3 linked regions of the Homo sapiens genome follow. The main gene of each other region encodes a partner of the protein of the gene in region 2 in a complex. Each region holds a gene or a part of one and is shown on either strand. Other genes may lie near its edges.

Evidence for each region. Proteins that work in one complex are often made in the same cells at the same time.
Region 1: INTS6 (region 2) and INTS9 share a complex: the UniProt entries of both Homo sapiens proteins name them as parts of the integrator complex.
Region 3: INTS6 (region 2) and INTS7 share a complex: the UniProt entries of both Homo sapiens proteins name them as parts of the integrator complex.

Annotation. Positions count from the first base shown.
Region 1 is NC_000008.11:28,809,970-28,816,994, forward strand, and holds part of INTS9 (integrator complex subunit 9), read right to left. Parts: intron 3,644-7,025; coding exon 3,523-3,643; intron 2,493-3,522; coding exon 2,358-2,492; intron 1-2,357. UniProt on the Homo sapiens protein: Component of the integrator complex, a multiprotein complex that terminates RNA polymerase II (Pol II) transcription in the promoter-proximal region of genes.
Region 2 is NC_000013.11:51,450,031-51,457,306, forward strand, and holds the start of INTS6 (integrator complex subunit 6), read right to left. Parts: upstream 3,007-7,276; 5' UTR 2,496-3,006; coding exon 2,385-2,495; intron 2,026-2,384; coding exon 1,948-2,025; intron 1,145-1,947; coding exon 995-1,144; coding exon of another isoform or gene 986-994; exon of another isoform or gene 1-985. UniProt on the Homo sapiens protein: Component of the integrator complex, a multiprotein complex that terminates RNA polymerase II (Pol II) transcription in the promoter-proximal region of genes.
Region 3 is NC_000001.11:211,941,558-211,948,582, forward strand, and holds part of INTS7 (integrator complex subunit 7), read right to left. Parts: intron 5,149-7,025; coding exon 5,050-5,148; intron 3,413-5,049; coding exon 3,227-3,412; intron 555-3,226; coding exon 267-554; 3' UTR 1-266. UniProt on the Homo sapiens protein: Component of the integrator complex, a multiprotein complex that terminates RNA polymerase II (Pol II) transcription in the promoter-proximal region of genes.

The sequences.
Region 1 (7,025 bases), on a different chromosome or scaffold from region 2:
GTTAATTATTGACTTAGCCATTCCATAATGCATGCACATATCAAGACATCATGCATACCATAAATATATACAATTTTTATTTGTAATTAAAAAATGAATAATTTCTTTCTTTCTTTACTGATAGTGCTCTAACATGGTGAATGTTCTTCAAACCCACTGGACTTTGTGTAAGAAGCATGGTTGGCACCAACCCCACAGAGTGACATGGTACAAGAAGGGAAAAGATGATCTGTATGCCAAGGGAAAGTGGCTTAATGGCAGGAAGGGGTGGCTATGTAGGCAGACCAAGCCAATCTTCTGGAAAAAGGCTAAAACTACAAACGAGATTGTGCTAAAGCTTAAGTGTTGGGCCCAACTGCAGATCTAGGAGAATGCTGGCTACTAGAGATACAAGTATTTTTAACTGGGAAGGGATAAAAGGAGAAAAGGCCAAGTGATCCAGTTCTTAGCTTCATTTTTGGTTTTATTATGAAGACAATAAAAATTTGAGGTTATGTTAAAAAATAAATAGGCCAGGTGTGGTGGCTATAGTCCTAGCTACTTGGGAGGACTGCTTGAGCCCAGGAGTTTGAGATTACAGTGAGCTATGACTACACCACTGTACTCCAGTCCGGGTGACAGAACAAGACCTTCTCTCTCTCTCTCTCTCTCCGTAAATAGATGTAGATAAACAAATGTAATATGGACTTCCACAAGTTACCTAATGTATCTATATACCCATTCAACAGCTAACTAATGTCCCCCCACTCCCTATTACAAACATAGAAATAACCAACATTCAGGAAATGAACAGTAAATTATTTACAAATACCAAAAAGGAGTAAGTATCACATTCATAACAATGTTTATATGTGCTAGGCTTCTTGCCAAATATGACTGGAATGAATAACTTAAAACGTTCCAATAGTTTCCCTCTCCATATTAAAATAAAACCAAAATTCCTCCTCACAGCCTGCTAACACTACATGACATGGTGTCTGCCACTCTCTTGGACCTCACTGCTGACCTCCACGCTGTGACCACAATAGCCTTCTCTGCCCTTCAAACATGCCCAGCTTATTCTTACTTTAGGGGCCCTTCACTGGCCATCCCTTTGTAATACAAACACTCACGGCTTTACGTGGCTAATTTCTCTGTTTTTCTTTTTTCTTTCTCTCTCTTTTTTTTTTTTTTTGTTGAGATGGAGTCTCACTCTGTCACCCAGGCTGGGTACAGCAGCATGATCTCAGCTCACTGCAACCTCTGTCTCCCGAGTTCAAGTGATTCTCCCGCCTCAGCCTCCCAAGTAGCTGGGATTATAGGTGCACACCATCACACCTAATTTTTGTATTTTTAGTAGAGATGGGGTTTCACCATGTTGGCCAGGTTGGTCTTGAACTCCTGACCTAAAGTGATCCACTCGCCTTGGCTTCCCAAAGTGCTGGGATTACAGGCATGAGCCACCATACCCGGCCTTTTTTTTTTTTTCTTGAGGCATAATCTCACTCTGTTACCCGCACTGGAGTACGGTGGCGCAATCTCGGCTGACTGCAACCTCCGCTTCCCAGGCTCAAGCGATCCTTCTGCCTTAGCTTCCTGAGTAGCTGGGACCACAGCGTGTGCCACCACACCCGGGTAATTTTTGTATTTTTTGTAGAGACAGAGTTTTGCCATATTGCCCAGGCCGGTCCTGAACTCCTAGGCTCAAGCAGTTATCCCATTTCGGCCTCCCAAAATGATGGGATTACAGGTATGAGCCACCGCGCCCAGCCGACATGGTTTATCTCTCCAGGTCTCAGTTCAAGTGAGATCTTCCCATTGGCTTTCCTGGGCACCCAATCTAAACCAATGGCCATCATTCTGAAAATCACCCTGCTTTACTGTTTTCAGTACTTGTATCTCAATCGGAAATGACCAGGCACTTTATTTGTTTACCTACTATACACCATCCTCTCCCCAACATCATCAACTCCCCTACAACATAAGATCTACGGGCACATGCTTTGCCCGTTGGTCACCACTGAATCCCCAATACCCAGATGTGTGCATGACACTTGACACTTGGCCCTTGGGAAGGATTTTAAACAGTTAATATTTGCTGAGTAAATGCATAACCATCTGTGTCCCACATCAGGCTATGGTCTTTGGAAGGCCTGGGGGATTTCAGAATCCTAGGAGTGACCCTCAAGGTAGCAGGACTATTTCAGAGAAACCTGTAGGTCAAAATGTTGAGACTCAAATAGTCTACCTTGGCTAGAGAGTATCTGTAGAAAACCATATTTGGAAGATTTAAAAATGGCTGATGGTTCCTTGGATACATTCTGAATTTGACTTAAGTAACCAAAAAGCTGAGTTGCTAGAAGAGAATTTGGAATTACCTGGGGGTGTGTGGTAAGCAAGGAGGATCCAGAGACATAAGACACTTTCTCGTAATGAGACTGGATGATCCAGTTGGAGCTCCCAAGGGCATAGCCAGAGCTCAGAGGAGTCACCTGGACCGCACCAAAAAGCTCCTAAAAGAGAACCACAGTAAGAATGTGCAATGAGCTTACAGTGACAGTCACATGAGGTAATTCTGCAGGGAAAAACAACAGAAATATCCTCAGTTTAAAAACAAAAATTATTTTAAAGTAAACCAGAGACTGGGTGCAATGGCTCACGCCTGTAATCCCAGCACTTTGGGAGGCTGAGGCCAGGAGTTCAAGACCAGCCTGGGCAACATGGTGAAACCCTGTCTCTACAAAAAAATACAAAAATTAGCTGGGCATGGTGGCACATGCCTGTAGTCCTCAAGCAGCTACTTGGGGCAGGAGGATCACTGGAGCCCGGGAAGTTGAGGCTGCAGTGAGCCATGTTTGTACCACTGCGCTCCAGCCTGAGTAACAAAGTGGGACCTTGTCTCAGTCAATCAATCAATAAAGTAAACTAGAAAGTTTTAAGGAAAACAGAAAGATGATGGAGATCAACTGGCAGACAAAGAAAGCAATCCTATAATATTTACTTGTCACCTGAGAGCTTCAGCTCTCTTCCATGTCCCCAGGCACTCAAGGTTCACACATTAAAAGGGAGAGATGAAATATTACCAAACAGACCAAAGACTCACACACTTTGGCTTTCCTTTTTCATTTTCAGTTAGGTGTTAGGCCCTTGTTGTTCGGTACTGAGTAGCTCTGGGCACAGGATGACAGTAAGAAATGGGAAGGCTTATCATTTAGGTCAGAGCTCAAAAGTCACACTTGACAAACTCTTCTCTCTTCCCGTTTCACCCATCCAAAATCTATAAAATCTAATGTGAACAGGATGAGACGCCTTTCTCCGGACTCCCTGCACGCTGGCCAATCGAATGCTGGCTGGTGATGGAGATGTGAGGGTGGGGAAAGAGCACCAATAAAATCCTGCGCGGAACGGAGGAAAGAACAGAGGCTCTGGATCCTCAGCAATGGAATGGCTTTAAAAACGTAACTATAGGATTCTTCCAAACAACAAACAACAATATGAATGGAAAGCATTCATGAATAACTGAAATGTAATATGAATACTCACAATTTTCTGAGAATATCCCACCAGCTGGATTTTACTAAGGGCAGAGTTCACCTCTTGCATTGTATAGCATCTTCTCCAGGTTGAGACTTCCACTGCATCCTTGAGAGGAGAAGGTAACAGCCTGCAAATGGATCACAATGTCAACTACCAGGTGAACATTTCTTCATGTTCTACAGCATTCCTTTCTAGTAATTTGTCCATTTGATCCAAATGGTTTAATTTACTGGCATATAATTGTTCATAGGATTCCTTTATGACCATTTCTCTGTTTTTATTTTTACTTTTTTTGAGACAGAGTCTCACTGTGTCACCAGGCTGGAGTGCTATGGCGCCATCTCGGCTCACTGCAACCTCCACCTCCCGGGTTCAAGCGAATCTCCTGCCTCAGCCTCCTAAGTAGCTGGGATTACAGGCGCCCACCACCATGCCCGGCTAATTTTTGTATTTTTAGTAGAGATGGGGTTTCACCATGTTGGCCATGATGGTCTCAATCTCCTGACCTTGTGATAGGCCCAACTCGGCCTCCCAAAGTGCTGGGATTACAGGCATGAGCCACCGTGCTCAGCCATTTCTTTTTTTAAAAAAAAAAAAAAAATAGAGACATGGTCTTGCTATGTCGCCCAAAATGTGTCAACAGAAAAACGTTTTATCATTTGCTCCAAAAGAATCAGGAGACCTGAAGAGTAACTTCCCTGACATTCACTGTACAATACAGGTCCAAGTACTGGGGTGAAATGAATGCATGCCATTAGCCTCTCCTCTCTCTCCTGAAACAACACTGAACAGGGCTTCTCACACACACACACACACACACACACACACACACACACACACACACACACACTCTCACACACACACCCTTAAGACAAAGAGAATGAGAGAAGAGACAATAGCAAGGCATTTTAGAAAGTAGACAGACAAATGATAACTGACTTCATAGGCCCAGGAAAGTTCAATGCAAACGTTTAATTTCTACTGCAGAACCCACAAAAAATATGGCAACTGAAAACAACAGGTGTATCAGGAAGTTGAATCAACCTAAAAACAAGAGGAACTGTTGAAAAAAGAGACGAGATACTTAGAACCTTCCAGATCTCCTCATTCCTTCCATATAGCTCAGCAGATGTCCCTTCTCCTCTCAGGTATGCTACCAGAGGTTGTTCTCTGGAGGGAGTAAAAATGAAAGTCTGGACTACGGGAAACCATCAACTGAGACAGCCTTCCTAAACAAAAATTTACAGAGGAACAATGTTCCTCTCCTCATTTGGCTGCCAAAGCACTATGAGTAAGCTTATTCCCCTCAGGGTAGGGGGCTGAAAGAATCTTCTCTGAAGAATCCGATCAGCCTCAAAGAAAAAAAATTAATGAAAAGATTCTAACGCAGAGGATTCCACAAAGAAACAGCTCAATCAGATTACTTTATGGTAAAGTGTGGAAGTGAACAAGTCCTACCCATGGCACATAGACTTTCTAATTAGTTTTTTTAATCGTTCAACTCTTAAACATGAGCCAATAGCCAAGGACTACCATAAATTTGAGAAAAGTCTCTAAAATAATAAAGGCCTCAAGTGGGGGCAGAGGAGCAGGCAGGGAAATTAGAAGAAATAAATTAGGCAGGTAGAAGAAAACTTTAAGAACAGCTTGTCCTTACTATCGTTAGAAAAATAAGATAGTATAGCTAAGAAATGAGAAGAGATTGCTACAAAATAAAAGATTAAGAGAATAAAAAGAGCTGTTACAAATTAGAAATACAATGTCATATAGAGAGTGAAAGCATGCCAACAATACACCAGAATTTCAAATAAGCTAAAAAGATTTAAAAGTTATACAAACGTGAAAGAGGTACATACATGAAAAACCAGCAAAGCTTATAAATGAGGTGACAAAACTCAATAAAGAATTAGAAATAAAAGAAAACATCATTTTGGAAATGAAGACTAAACTACATGTTGACCATCCCAAATCTGAAAACCTGAAGTCAGAAATGGTCTAAAATCTGCAGCTTTTTGAGGCAAACATGACGCTTAAAGGAAATGCTCACTGGATTACTTTGGATTTTGGATTTGGGATGCTCAATCAGCAATATTCCAAAATCGGAAAAAGTCTGAAGTCTGAAACACTTTGGTCCCAAGTATTTCACATAAGGGACACTCAACCTGTAATAGAAACACAAGAGTAGATTAATAAAAAATACCAAAAAGAAATGAAGAGATTTAAACAATTCAAAAGAACCTAACAAATGTTGAAGACAGATAAGCAAGATGCCACATAAGGGAATCTTATGTGGCATCACAGAAAACCAAGTGAGAATAATAATTAACACTCATAATATTCAATTACTAAATACTATAATTGCTAAAATGAAGAGACACGAAACTACACACTAAAAGAACACAGTGTACACTTGAGAATACTGACCCAGAACAATGAACAACAGACATATTCTGGAAAATATTTAGACTACAAGCAAACCTTTGGGATCTAGGAAAAGAACAAGTGACTTACAAGGAAAGAAAATTAGATTTTATCAGTGTTTTTAATAGCAATGTTTAATATTAGAAAAAAATATGAGAACATATTTAAGATACTCAAAGAAAGAAAATGCATGCCAAGGACTATATATCTAGCAAAACTGACTTTCTTTTTTTTTTCCTTTTTTAAAAATTTTATTATTATTATACTTTAAGTTTTAGGGTACATGTGCACAATGTGCAGGTTAGTTACATATGTATACATGTGCCATGCTGGTGTGCTGCACCCATTAACTCGTCATTTAGCATTAGGTATGTCCCCTAAAGCTGTCCCTCCCCCCTCCCCCCACCCACAACAGTCCCCAGAGTGTGATGTTCCCCTTCCTGTGTCCATATGTTCTCATTGTTCAATTCCCACCTATGAGTGAGAATATGCGGTGTTTGGTTTTTTTGTTCTTGCGATAGTTTACTGTGAATGATGATTTCCAATTTCGTCCATGTCCCTACAAAGGACATGAACTCATCATTTTTTATGGCTGCATAGTATTCCATGGTGTATATGTGCCACATTTTCTTAATCCAGTCTATCATTGTTGGACATTTGGGTTGGTTCCAAGTCTTTGCTATTGTGAATAGTGCCGCAATAAACATACGTGTGCATGTGTCTTTATAGCAGCATGACTTATAGTCCTTTGGGTATATACCCAGTAATGGGATGGCTGGGTCAAATGGTATTTCTAGTTCTAGATCCCTGAGGAATCGCCACACTGACTTCCACAATGGTTGAACTAGTTTACAGTCCCACCAACAGTGTAAAAGTGTTCCTATTTCTCCACATCCTCTCCAGCACCTGTTGTTTCCTGACTTTTTAATGATTGCCATTCTAACTGGTGTAAGGTGGTATCTCATTGTGGTTTTCATTTGCATTTCTCTGATGGCCAGTGATGGTGAGCATTTTTTCATGTGTTTTTTGGCTGCATAAATGTCTTCTTTTGAGAAGTGTCTGTTCATGTCCTTTGCCCACTTTTTGAT
Region 2 (7,276 bases):
TTCAATAGGAAGCAAATAAAAGTTGTAGTCACAGAAAGAATTTCCCTGAAATGTACGAAACTCACAAAACTAGGGACTGTGGGACTTGGGAAAATACAACATATACCCAATATATAATTAGGAATAGTGCTTTTCACTACAACATAAGAACTGAGCTCCTTGGAAATAATATTCCTTTGTTACATGTAACATTATACATTGTTCAGTATCTTTTATTTCCAGGGCAATAATATCATAAAATGTTACAATAGACCACCTTGCATTATTCCTTAGTGAATTATTGTTGATTTAAAGCTCCTCTCATCCTCAAATACATGAAAGTAAGTGCAATAAAAGGACTTGTGGGGGTTAAGAAACGAAGGGTTCTTTCATATTTTCCAGCAGTCTTTTTTTCCAAGGGTTTGGAGTTTAAATCAAAACTCTGGGCCTGAAATTTAATTCAGAGTTCTTCCTGCAATAGTTGTTAACTGTGTATGCTTCAAAAGAAAACTTAAATGTTCTCAGCCAGTGACTGTACTCCAGTGAAAAACTTCTTACCTTTCAGAATAGTTATACAACATGGTCACATTAAACCCTGATGCAACAAACAGATTAATTTCCTCTAACATCTTTACTAATATAGAAACGAAGAACACGAACTAGTGTCTCTAAGCCACTATAATAGTTGCACATACAACATGAGTGTGGTGTGGTAGGATGCTTTTCCTTTTAGGTCTTTACTGAACTTTCAAGGGATTAAAACCAATGTATGTCAACTTTATAGCAAAAGTTTCAGATTCTAATCCTGAATACCAATGCATTTTAGAGGGGGAAAAAATGAGGGATGTAAAATATATATAGTAGGGTAAGAGTTTTGCCTTTGAACAATGTGCATATTCTATTTTAATTTGGAATGTTTTATACTTGCATTTCATGTTATGTAGTTTTTGGACTGGACTGTGTTTTTCCACAAAATGAAAAATCAACTATTTTGCCACCTTATTATTCAACCTACCTGCCCATAGTTGTCTATGCCAGTTACTAATCTATTTAAATTTAATAAATCAAAAGCTGTCCTTAGGGATTGGCCAAGAGTCGTAAGTCCTTCAGCCTGAAGGTTTTTCAATTCATTCATAAACGTTGCATGGTTTTCTTTCCATCCAGCCTGAAAAGAAAAATGTAAGATTTTTTTTTTTCATTTTTTAAAGCCATGTACACAGAGCCGTTATAATCTGACGTTCACCAAGTAGCAGCTTCACTTTTGGTTGGTTTGGCTTGGTTAACGTGTTAATACTGTACCGCTGCTGAGGAAACTCTCTTCCAAAGGTGGCCCAGGAATAACCCAGCTTCCTCTCTAGGTTTTGGTAGTTAACTGCCTTAATACTTTATAACTTCACTGACAAATTTACTACCTAATCTAATACCCAAAATTTGGGTATGTGAAGGTACTAGTGGAAGCAGATGGGAGCCGGACTTAGGAAGTTAACCTGCAGCTGTCCCACCGGCCCTCTTAGGACGAATCTGACAAGACCAATCCTGGCAGCCCCGCATCTGGCTTCCGGGCCGGCCGGGCCGATTCCCCTTTAATGCAAACCGGGGCTGTGCGCGGCCGGGCCCGGCTGTCACTCCGGCTAACTTGAATAAATATCCCCCACAGTTCATTGCTGCCGCTCACGCCGCGGAGGGGAAATGTCGGCCATGTTGATAGCAGCGCCGCCGCCGCCGCCGCCGCCGCCGCTGCCGGGCCGGGCCGGGAGGGGACGGCGGTGGCCCCGCGACTCCGCGCCGCGCTAGGACGCTGCCGAGCGGGGGAGGGGGTGGGAGCCCGCAGGGAAGAGACCTCAGCGGCTGGGAGCGCAGCGGGTGGGGGAGGGGAGCATAATGAAGGGTGAATGGGGGGGCGGGGAGGGCGAGCGAGGAAGGAACAGGGAAGGGAAGGGAGGAAAGGGGGAGGGCGAGGGCTGTTACCTTGATAGCATAGGGCGGCTCTTCGAAAGTGACCAGCATATACCTGTCTCCTCTGCTGGCAGGGTCCCGGGCACGGAGCTGCGGGACGGGAGGAGGAACAGGGCGGGCGACAGGGAAGCACAGAGGCGAGGTTACGAGGCGGAGAAGGGGCGCCCAGCGGCCCCGCCGCCCCCACAGTACCGCACACGCAGCGGCCACCCCTCCACGCCGTCCCCCACACACAGATCGCTCCCCACACACCGCCCGGGGCCGGAGCCCGGGCCCCGGCCGAACCCGGCTCGCAGCGCCCGCCCGCCCGCGCGGTGGGGGAGGGGGTCCCCGAGCCCGGCAGCTCCCGCAGTCAGGTCCCCGACACCCCCGCCCCGGCCGCCCTCCCCCACCCTGCCGCCCGCGGGCCGCCGGGCCGGGGTCGCCGCCCGGGCTCGGTCAGTCGGTACCTTCATGAAGGTCTCTACCGCGCCTTTGGCCGTGTCCAGGTAGGTGGTGCCCAGATGGCTGCGCTGGTTCATAGAGGCAGACGTGTCTATCAGGAACAGTAAGATGGGCATAGTGCTGGCCGGGGACACCGGGGCCCGAGGTGGTGGAGAAAGAGGAGATGGTAGAGGTGGAGGCGCCGGTGGCGGCGACCGCCGCTACGCGGGGCGGGGGAGCACGGCCCCCGGGAGGAAAACACTGTCTGGGTCTTTCCTCCGGCTGCGGGGAGTTTCTCCCCCGATAGTTGAGAGGAAACTCCCCAGACCCAGTGCTCCCCGTCGTACCCCCGCCTCCGCCTCCTCCTGCCTGCCTGCCCGCTGGGGCGGGCGCCCAGCCGTCTGTCTGTCGGTTCGTCCCCCCCGCCTCGGGGGTCCCGTCCCCGCTCCCGGCCCCTGTGTGTGTCCCAGCGGGAGACGGGCCTGGCTCCCCACCCCACCCCCGGTACAGGAGTGGGGACCTGGGAGCTGGCGAAGAGGGGAGTGGGCTGAGGGAAGATTGGCCCTGGGGCTGTTGGGAGAAGTTTCAGGGACTCCCTCCGCACCCCGGCGGTGTCACCACTTTCTCAGCCCCTCTCGCTACTGAAGCGCTTTTCTCTCTCACACTCCGGTTTTAACTCGGGCAGGGGCTGCGGAGGCTCCGCCCCTGACACGTCCCCGAGCCACGTGATACACCGCCTCGCCGTTCTACTGGTCAGGCCCTATCCTTTCATTAGCATATTTAAACAGCTCAGGGGCGGGGGAAGCTTGTAGGCCGGCTCCGGGGACAGTTATTGAGCACGCGCAGAGGCGGGGCGTCGGGTGCGCGCGAGCGGGCGGGCGGGCCGACCCGGAGGCGGGCTTCGGGAAGGGGCGGGGCCGGACTGCGGAAGGACCGCGAGGTGGGGGCGGGGGCCGCGTCCGCGCGCGCGGGGCGGCCGCGGCGGTGAGCCTGCGCGTCAGGGCCGCCGGCCTCTCCTTGGCTGTTGGAGGTGATAGGGGTCGAGGGGAGGGAAAAAGGGGCTGGCGTCAGCCGCCCCTGTGAGGTGGCCGTAGCGTGGACGAGTAAGAAGGGTTGAGTAAAGTGGACAAACACCTGGTTAGGAGAAGAGGGCAGGCCCGCAGCCGCCCTCCGGAGGAGGACTCGGGGCCTCGCGGGCGCCGGAGGAGGTTCCTGGGCCTCGGAGGGCCGCCCCGGCGCGCCGCCCCGGCGCGAGCGGGCGCGGGCGGGGGAGGGGAAGTGAGAGGTTGTTTATGACCGGGGACTAATCTCCTCCGCGAGTCCCAGCGCTCCCTCTGGGGAGTGCGGTTGAGGGGCTGTCCTCGCACGGAGCCTCGCTCGGCCTCGGGGGAGCCACGAGAGGTGGGAGTTGGACCCGCAGCGGGCCAGGAGCCCTGTCATTGGAGGACCCGCCAAAAAGGAAGCAAACCCTCTTTTTCTTTATCCAACCCCAAATAGCTAGGGCCTAGGGGGAAGACTCACATATCGATAAATGGTTTGTTGCCCGTTTTATTCTCTGGGAAATACAACTGATCTTACCAAAGAAATAACCTGTCTCTTGCCGTGTTTACTTAGAGCCATAGAATACCTGTTTCAGAGCTGAAGGGGACCTGAGCCCATGATAATCCATTACCTCGTGAGAAAGCGGAAAAACTGACTTCAGCTTGCCCAGATGGCGCAGAGAATGGGTTTCCCGTAACCCCGCCTGTGTCTTTCCTTCAGCCTCGTCCCAAATGCCGTGGGAGGGAAGGCACTCTCTGTCAAGCTGCTGTCACCTTACCTGAAGTAAGGAGTCCACGCCTGCATGTCCGAGGAAAACAGTTTTCTCAAACACATTAGTTGAAAAACTGAAGACGCTGCCTAAAATACAAGCTGAGTTAGAGACAGCCCTTGTAAGACTAGGTAGGTATTTACAGGGCCTCTCCCACTAGCTTTGTTTTTCCAGAGTTTGTTCTTTATCCGGAAATTCTTAATTTGCCTACTGATCATTTAAAGAAAGGGTTCTATTAACATTGACACAGAAGAGACACTTTGTGGCACTTTTTAAAAATCTGAGTCTCGTGACTTGGTATAACTTCTGAAACTTACTGTTAATTTATAGCAGAGCTATTTGAGTAATATGCTCTTCTATGAGTATGAACAATAGAAGAAGTGTGATTTTTAAAGTGATTTGGACTACAAAATAAGAGCATGGAATATAGGCTTTACAGCCAGTACTTGCTGAGGATGTACTGTGTATTAGGTGTGGTGCATATAAAAAATAAATAAAATGTGGTCCCTGTCTTCAAAGAGCTTATGTTTTCTAGGAAAATGCTACATATTACTAGCTACTCCAAGGCAGAAAGTTGTTAGACACCAAATCAGAAAAAATAAAAATGTATTACCTTGGGGTGATGCAGGAACATTTTCCAAGGTTTCAGCTTTGCCTTAGTGTTTCTTAAACGGATCATAGATCTGAAGATAAGAATCAGAGTTCTATGGCAAAATACGAGTTATTTTACCAGTTATAAAGATGAAATTTGTCTTTCAACTTGATCATTTGCATAATTTTATACAATTGCTCTTTAGTTCTTTATATTTGTGCTTTTCAAACTGGTCTGTGGACCCCAGCCTACTGAAAACATTCTCTAGGATCATAAGAATTTATTTTAGGAGTCTGTTCATTATTCAGTTTTAAGAAACACTGTCTTAAAGGACTGGTAGGATTTGGATATGGGTAAAGGAAGGGGAAGCTGCTAGTGAAAAGATCTTCCCGACATTGAAAATGTGAAGAAAGGAAGTTAAGACAGCATTGCTGAGGGCTTCCTGAGGAACAGTGAAGTTCAGCTAGGTTGGAGCAACAGGTGCATGTAGAATAGTACAAGATCTAGAAACACAGGTGAGATCTAGACAGTAGAGGGCCTTTATTCCAATCTATGGAGGTTTTTTTTCCCCTATAAATTGGAGATTTATTTTTCAATTGCGTTGCTAAGTAGAAGCAATGTTTGAAAGAAATCAAACTAGACTACTGAAGATTAACATGCGTTCACAATGACCTTACCTATTATTACAGTTATTCGAAATCATTTTTCAGTGGAGCCATTGTCACAGGATCCTTGGAGTGTCACTTTTCCAGCTGGAAAAATGGCACCTCTGCCCGAATTTTGGTCGGGCTCATTCTGCCCACCAGTCCCAGCAGGCTGCACTCTGCTCATACTACGGCCTGGATCCCACACCTGCCAAGTGCAAGCCAGGTGCGGAGCAGCGAGGGGTGTGTGAGCGAGCAAGCATGGGGTCCGGCCACTGTATACAGCCCGGCATGCCAGCTGCAGGAGGGCGGGCAGCTCTAGGGGCTGGCCCCTTGCAAGGCTGTGGCTGGTCCAGGTGTACTGCAAGCAGCTTCCACAGCTGGCACCAGGGAATGCAGTGGCACCTGGAAGCTTGGAGATGCCAGGAGCTGCAGAGCCCCAAAGAGGTTGTCACAGGGAGCTCCTAGGTCTAGGCTTCCTAAAGGGCCACAGCTCTTCTCTCCTCTCTTCCCCCTTCTCTTTCCTTTCTTCTTCTCTTCTTCTCTCTTCTCTTGTTGTGTTGCCCACAACATGGCAAGCAAGGGGCATATTTCAGCCCGTTTGTGTTACAGCTCTTTCAGCCATGCCATTTGGCAGGTCCCGAGTTATTGTCCCACATCCAGGAAGAATGAGGTATGTGGACAAGTGGAGGGTGAGCAAGGCAAAGAGGTGCTTTGTTGAGTGACAGAACAGCTCAGAGGAGACCTGAGGGCAATGAGTAGCTTCTTTCTGCAGGCAGGTCATCCCAATAAGTGTCCAGCTCTCAGCAGAGAGGAGACCCACAATGGGTAGTTCCTCTCAGCAGGCAGGTGGTCCTGTCATCTGCTCAGCTCTCCACAGAGGAGACCCACAGTGTCCATAGACCCACAGTGGGTAGCTCCTGTCTGCAAGCAGGTCATCTCATTGTCTGCCCAAGTCTGGTTCACTCCAGGGTTTTTATGGGCTTCTGAGAGGAAGAAGTGTGTGCTGATTGGTCCATGGCGCAGCCATGGGCAGGCCTGGAGAAAGCACCATAAGTTCTCACTCCGTTGCATGGAACTGGCAGCCTGACCCCTGGCGTTACCGGGGACCCACCCCTTTCCGCCCAGGAGCCTGTGTGGATCCTGCTGCCATTAACCTGCCATCCACAGTGCCCATGGCGCCCAGGTTGTTCATGCTAAGTGGTACCTACAGGCCTTCACTGAGATGTCCTTATTCCCGCCTCGGCCTGCCTCCCTCCTGTGCTCATCAGCACCCAAAGTCCAGAGGGGACTGAGGCAGCATGGGGCTTGCGTGTCAATGCTGCCCCAAGCACGTGCACACCTGGTCGGGTCGTGACAGCACCCAGGCTTAGTCACAACTTTGCTCTGAAATCAGAGCGGGTGCTGGGAGCGGGGAGAGGCCAGGCAGTGGGAGCAGGCACTTCCAAGCCTGCGGGAGCAGGGAGCTTCCTGGTCCCCTGAGAGTGGGTCTTCTCTCTGTGGAGAGCTGAGAAGATGACGGGATGACTTGCCTGCTGAGAGGAACTACCCACTGTGGGTCTCCTCTCTGCTAAGAGCTGGACACTTATTGGGATGACTTGCCTGCAGAAAGAAGCTACCCATTGCCCTCAGGTCTCCTCTGAGCTGTTCTGTCGCTCAGCAAAGCACCTCTTTGCCTTGCTTACCCTCCACTTGTCCGGAGATGAATGGGTCCACAACCATGACTGGGTGGCTGCAGCTGCACTCAGGAGGGCAGGACTCCCACTCTTCCAACTTGGAAGCGGGCAGGGCTTCTGCCTGTTCCCAGCTCTTGCTGGCTCCATAGAGCACCGCCGCGGCTGTAGCCGTGCCTCCCCGATTATAGCCAGCGTC
Region 3 (7,025 bases), on a different chromosome or scaffold from region 2:
ACTGTGTTAGCCAGGATGGTCTTGATCTCCTCGTGAGCCGCCCACCTCAGCCTCCCAAAGTGCTGGGATTACAGGCGTGAGCAACCACGCCCAGCTGTCAGACAAAATTTTTAAGAAAACAAAATTTTTTCCAGAATATTACATTACAAAAATCAATGAATAAATGAACTACACTGTAACTTTAATACTTATTCCATATGAAAAACCAAACTGTTTCTGGCAATTTGATTGATCTCTTGAGAGTCTGCAGTGCATTCATTCCATGGTTAAAACCGTGTGTAGGCATTGCGTTGCTGCTGCTGCTGTAATGGCTGCTGGGCTTGCTGCTGTTGTAAGCGAATTTGCTGGGAATAAGGGTCTTCCAGGGATTTTACAAATATGGTAGTTCTGGGACCAGTCTTCCATACTATACCATTGGCATCTTTCACAGAAGATTCCACTGTAATGTTGTGTGTTCCAAGGATAGCAAAGTTCAACAGAAATTGAGTACTGAAGTAATCATTATGAGGTTCAACCCTTTGCTCCATCTCATTGGTCATGTTGTCAATGGGTATCTGCAATGAAACAATTGTTAACTAACAACAATGGCTAACATTTCTTCAGTGCTTACTATGAGTTAGGCCCTGTTCTAAGAGCTTATTTAGACCATGCAGACAATAAAAAATTAGGTACTGCTATCATCCTTGCTTCACCGATGAGGAGTCTAAGGCAGACAGGTTAAGTAATGTCTCCAAAGTCACATGATTAGTGAACGGAGTAGGAATCTGAACACAGGCAGACTACCTCCAGGGCCTACACTCTGAACTACTAAGTGATGCTCCTCACTCTACTTGAGTAGAATGAGCTCCCAGAGCCGTTGACAGCCCCTTCACATGCTGGCCTTTCTTCCTTGCTTACTCAACCCCATCTCTAAATCCCTATCTTCCTTTAGACTGTGAAGAGATATTCTGAAGAAATAGGATGAAATCACCTGTTCCAGAGAGTTTAAAACCTAAGAGACTGAAAAAGAACAAAACACTAAGCAAATTTAAGTTAGGTTCCCCCCCAACAGTTAGTCTGATTTTTATTACTTAATGTAGTGATTCCTTACTCCTTTAACAAATTAACTGAACCATTTGTACATTGCTCATTTAATAAGCACTGTTTTGTTCAGACTGGAAGTACAATATGTTATAAAACACAGATTTATAGGCTCATTCATTTAGCCAGACACTCATGCCTTTGTTCTTCAAAGACCAGAATAAAACCTGCTGACGTACTCTTACCTGTACCCAAGATGAAACGTGTCAAGAGACAGATTTATCCTGAGAATGCAAATAAAGGTGATCTTAATGTGTATTTGACCAAATTACTCTAGGTTTATGTGCGTGTTTCTGTGGTGTAATTAATTATATAAATGTGCCCTGCAGCTTTGTGTCTCAAGGAGCAGTTATCATGTCACTTTTCCAGAGACATTTACCTGTAATAGTAATGAACTGACGTCACCAACCAATTCAAGGTCTTAGAATTATTTATAGTACAGGTACTTTTTCACATTTAGCCTTTGTACAGTTTTTATTTCCCTAAAGAATATGCCAACCAAAGAACTTCCTTAAAAGGACCAGAAATAGGCCTAGGGAACCTGATCACCCTGAATGGATGGCTGCATCTTAAGCTGCAAACTCACTGTGAATAACACTGCAAAGTAATCATGTTATTACTCGGCTTATTATATCAGCTTCCTGACTTTAATCAATGCCTCTTGAGAGGTAGGTCAACAAGCAGAAGACCATAGCTTCTAGGTTTGAATGTTATTTTCTTAACAGTAGAAATTATATGCAAGTAACAAAGAGAATCATGGTTACTACTGTTTCAAATTCAAAGTGAAGAGAGAGTTGCAGACAGGGATAAATTATGTAAATTCTCATTACAACCTTCTGTGACAGCAGATACCCAATTTTAACAGTTATACTCTAAATATAGTAAATAATTTTTTCATCATTCACAAATTATTGAGTGGCTACATAAGGTACCATGCTGTATGGCACAGAAGTCAAAACAGAGGAAAAGAGGAGAATGAAGGCTCAGCCGTGTCAGAGTGGACAGAGTGCCAAAGTGAGAGGAACTTGCCATAGTTAAGAAAGTAGTAATGGCTTAAGAAAGTAATAATAGTTTAGAACCAGACCTTCCCTTGGCTTTTTAACCTAAAACCACCAAAGATAATAAAATGCTCTCTTTTTATACCTTCACTGATACCCTGCCTTCCATGCTATGCCACAATAAACCTGGACACAGCCAATCTGGGCATCTGAGTAACTTCGCTGCTACAACTGTGGACTTGGTCCCTTGCTTCATTTACTGTGGATAAACCACCAGGGAATCGGAAATAAATGTCTAAAGCAAGGAACATTCTTTATCTCGAACACTGGCATTTCATGGGCACAGATTCAGCATCTTAGCTCTGGCTAACAATGTAGCCTAATTCAGGTTATTACTTACCTATATCCTGAGTTCCCAAGGCAGCAAATCCCTAGGGTTACACTCTTAAAAAAAGATTTTACTTTATCTGATCATTTTATAGAAATGCTATATACTTTTTTTAATGATAAAATTTACTTAAAATGGAGAAAACTAAATAGATGTGTATTTTTTGTGGGGAGGGATTGGGTGGGTTAGGGAGACACTTATTTTCCAACTTCTGACGTTTGAAGGGACCTCCTGATGTAAGAGAGACCTTTCGTTAGATTAATATTACTGACCTAGCAGGGAGGAGGTGAGTCTTGCTGATGGGTGACTTTCTGGGCAGGAACCAGACATGGGAAGGTAAGCACTTGCTCTTTCTCTTCTGCTTTGGGCACCTGAGTCCTCTGTGCCCTGCCATAAATTTTATAGGGGCAGGCTCCCATACGTACTGACTGAGGCTGGGTGAAAAAATCCAATTCAGGGGTCTACGGTTAGAAAGGCCTTGCTGCCAGGCATTGGAGTTAGGTTTTCCCACAGCTCCAACAGTAATAAAACTCATATTTTGATCTTTGCCTGGATGCTTTGTCTCTATCAACTGGTTCAGGGAGAGAAAAAGAAGTGTTTATCAACCCCTTACAGCCCCAATGTGGGCTTTTAATTTATGTCCATCTGATCCCTTTGGAGGTATAACTGCAATCTATTTAACCATGAAAAACACTGGAAAACTTCCATCAATGAGCTCATATAAAACCTGTATCACAATTCTGCCTCTTTTCTAAATTACCTTGTAGTCTTGTCCAGATTTACTCTGCAGTGTGGAAGAAACATTCAGACAGACAGACTGAATTTTGCGGAAGAGTCCTGGTTTAGATCCGTGCTGAACCACTCCCTCTACCTTTAGCGCCAGCTGCTGGTTATTCTGGACAGCAATGGGCTCTGCAGGATTCCGGGGCGATGGTGACAGAGCAAGCTGGAATGCCAACACTCAAATAAATGCCAACAACCAAGAGCAAGCTTCCTTCCGACAAACATGTCTGTGCTAATCACTGGTTACAGGTTAACAAATTCGATTGTGCACTCCCCCACCCCCACAGGACCTGACTGTGCCAGGACAACGAGACAGATGTACCTTTAAAGTGCCTCCTTCTAAACATCACTGTGGTTTTCATCCCAAACCTCAGTTCTATTTGAGGATAATAGAGAATTAGAAAAAAGCAAAGGCACTATTCTCCCAATTTTTGTGGTGAGGCATTTCTTTGACAATGAACCACTTCTAGTAGGGAAAGGCATTATATAAATTTTCATTACCTAAGAGCTGTCTCTTTGGTCTTACGTAATTTTAAATAAACTAAATTCAAATGTAAATGAACTTAAAGTTCCAGGATTATCTACACAACGAAGTCACTGTGCTATAAAAAAAGTCAATATCTACAAATGAATCAAATGACATTTTTCACCTCTCATTAGTTTTTCTTCAAAAATGTATTAAAAATCCCAAACACATCAATTAAAGAAAGCCCAAGTCTTGCTAAATGAAAAGATGGAAGAAATTTGAGTCTTTTTGATAATGTTGTTGAACTACTGATCAACCCTGGAGACATCCTACTTTAGGACTTCTTATCTAGATCGTCAAATCTTCCTCATTATTCCAGTCATTTTGAAATGGAATGCTCTGTTATTTGTAATCAAAACATTTGCATGGATGTAAAAGTTTACTGAAGACATTAACTAACAGGGATAATCCAGGAGATCTCTTAGAAGTGACAATTTTCTCCCTTTTCCAACAATTTCATTTTCTGAATCAAAAATAGCTTTTGAATTGTGAGTGGCTTAAATATTTCAAAATACTAATTCTACTCACTGGTTAGCCCCTCAAAACATGTTACTGAAAGGCAGAAGTACTTTGGAAGAAGAACTGGTGACAGTTTACTGGATCTGATTCATTCTAAGTTGGGTCTATAAGTTGGGTCTGAATAGACTCAGCTCAAGATCCTTGCAGGCTACTGTGATAAATCACTAATTTATTCCTGGAGGTGAGAGACAAACAACAGAGCTCCAGTTACCCAAATGCCTGTCTCATAGAATTTGGCACTGACAATTAAAAAGGGAGAGAGTTTAACTCCCAAATTCATTTCTTTCACCAAACCACTTGATAAAGGAGAGAAATGGCTTACAACTAGGTTTTATCAAAACCAAAGGTAAGCCAGGCACAGTGGCTCATGCCTGTAATCCCAGCACTTTGGGAGGCAGAGGTGGGTGGATCACTTGAGGTCAGGAGTTCCTGACCAGCCTAGCCAACATGGTGAAACCCCATCTTTACCAAAAATAAAAAAATCAGCTGCGTGAGGTGGTGGATGCCTGTAATCCCAGTTCCTTGGGAGGCTGAGGCAGGAGAATCGCTTGAACCCGGAGGTTGCGGTGAGCCAAAATCACACCACTGTACTCCAGCCCAGGCGACAGGGCGAGACTCTGTCTCAAAAAACAAAACAAAACAAAAAAACCAATAAACCAAAGGTAACACACTGAAGTGTAGCTATGTCCTACATAATCTTCAGAAGACACCTGGTTTTAAAACCTATATTAACCTTAGTATTCTTCCTGTATTACCTTGATGCTGGTAGACTGTAGTTTCTGGAAAAAATATCTCTGGAAAGAAAGGGGAACTTTCAGCAAAGCAATGATGGCATTGCAGAGGCATGCTGTGTGCTGGGGGAAAAAAGAAACTAAATCAAATAAAAATAAATTTTCAAATTTCATCAACAAGTGGTACATTCAGTATAAAACTACAAATGCCCATATAGATTATTACAAAGGTACATACCAATCAAGAACTAGGCATCACATCCAGGAACTGTGCATACATACTAAATCATTCATTACAGATTTTTACTTTATTGTGAAGTATATTCAATAAAATATAAGTGACAGAAATGAGAAAATCCACAGTCCTCGAGGCCAAGCAATAGGCAAATTCCACATTTCTACAGCGCTCAGAACTATCAGTATATTATTAAACAATTATATTAGATACTAAAATATAGAGTAACTATCACATGGCAAAGTATGATAAACAGTATGGTAAAGAAGCCCGAGCATTTTGCAGGACTTTGGCTTTGAGCTGGCTCATTCTTTCATTAGGTGGCTTGTCTCTATGGCCATTGGTCCTCAGAGTAAGCAGTGGTGGAAACTTGGTCGAATTCAGATGAAAGAGGACTATATAGTCGGGGAATCCTGAAACTCTAATAAAATATCTTATTTCTCAAATCTGCCTCACACATTTAACTGAGTTTTGAAAATCCCAGCATGACTGCAGAGGTACAGAAACACCACAGAGAATATTTTGAGCCTTAATGAAAGTGGTCATAAAATCAGAATTTAAGCGTTCAAAGATATTTTAAAGATTACCCAGTCTAATAGAAGAAAACTGAAAGTATCATAAGAACACTTTTAACTTCAGGTGAACCAGAACCATTCCTGCTTGGTCTACTATCCCTTCCTCAGTCTACTCCCGTCTCAGTGGCCTCGTAAGTCACCACAGTGAGGCAGCGCTCCTTTCACGGGGGCACTAGCTGCGGGAGGTCTGTTCTTGCAGACCCGATTCAGCAACGGATAAATAAAGTATGCTGACACACAGATATTCTGCTCTGCCAGTCCAGCTGAGGGTCCCAGCCGCTTACAGGCTCCTGCTGAGTCCTGTAAACAGTTGCAACTAGGCCCTGATCAGCTAGTCAGACTCGCATTTATTCAGTAAGATTAATTAACAAAAGCTTGAGTCAACACCATTAGAGGGAAATTGACATTGTGGACTTCTGAGTAAAAGGCACTTAAGCACTCACGGTACATCAAAGGTTAGTCTTTATATGAGTAAACAAGCTAGCCAGGTAAACTACTCTGCCTTTCTTTATTACTATTTTAATTTGTTTAAAGGTAAAGAGATCAGGCCGCCTTCAGCCAGATCTATTACTGAAGTTAGGCAAACTTCTCAGCCTTCCAAGAAGATTTGTGTCTATTTCTATAACTATCTCTAATATTTTTCCCACCAGCCTGATTGAAACCCAACACCACAGGTTGAAAACTGCTGCATGCACCATGTGGTATGCTGTCTGTCCCTCTAGGCTCCTGCTTTCAAGCAGAGTGTCACCTAGTTGCTCATGCTGTAAACATTTTTTTTTTTAAAGTTGGGTGTTAAGGCTAAAAGCCAGAAAAATCCATTCCTTATTGGGTTCAGGCAATTGAACATTTTGTGCCCAACAGACTCATAGTACAAATGCCAAGTCTATTACCTGAGATAATCACAACACAGATTTAAAGACACTGGTTCTATTTTTTCAGATTTAACTGTTAAAATAGCATTAATCAGCTTCCTGCAACAAGTAATTTGGAAAGTATTTGCAGAGACATCCACCTTTGGTGGACCTCTGATGCCACACTAGTGTCTAAGGAGAGAAACATCTTTGAAGCGTGGACTCAGAGGACCACAAGGGACTTCAGGCTGTTTTCAGGCAGAAAGTCACCATTTTGCCTTTTAAAAGAATGGTGCAGATTTTGCAATACCCTCTTGGAAAAGTGTGGAGTGCCTCTGA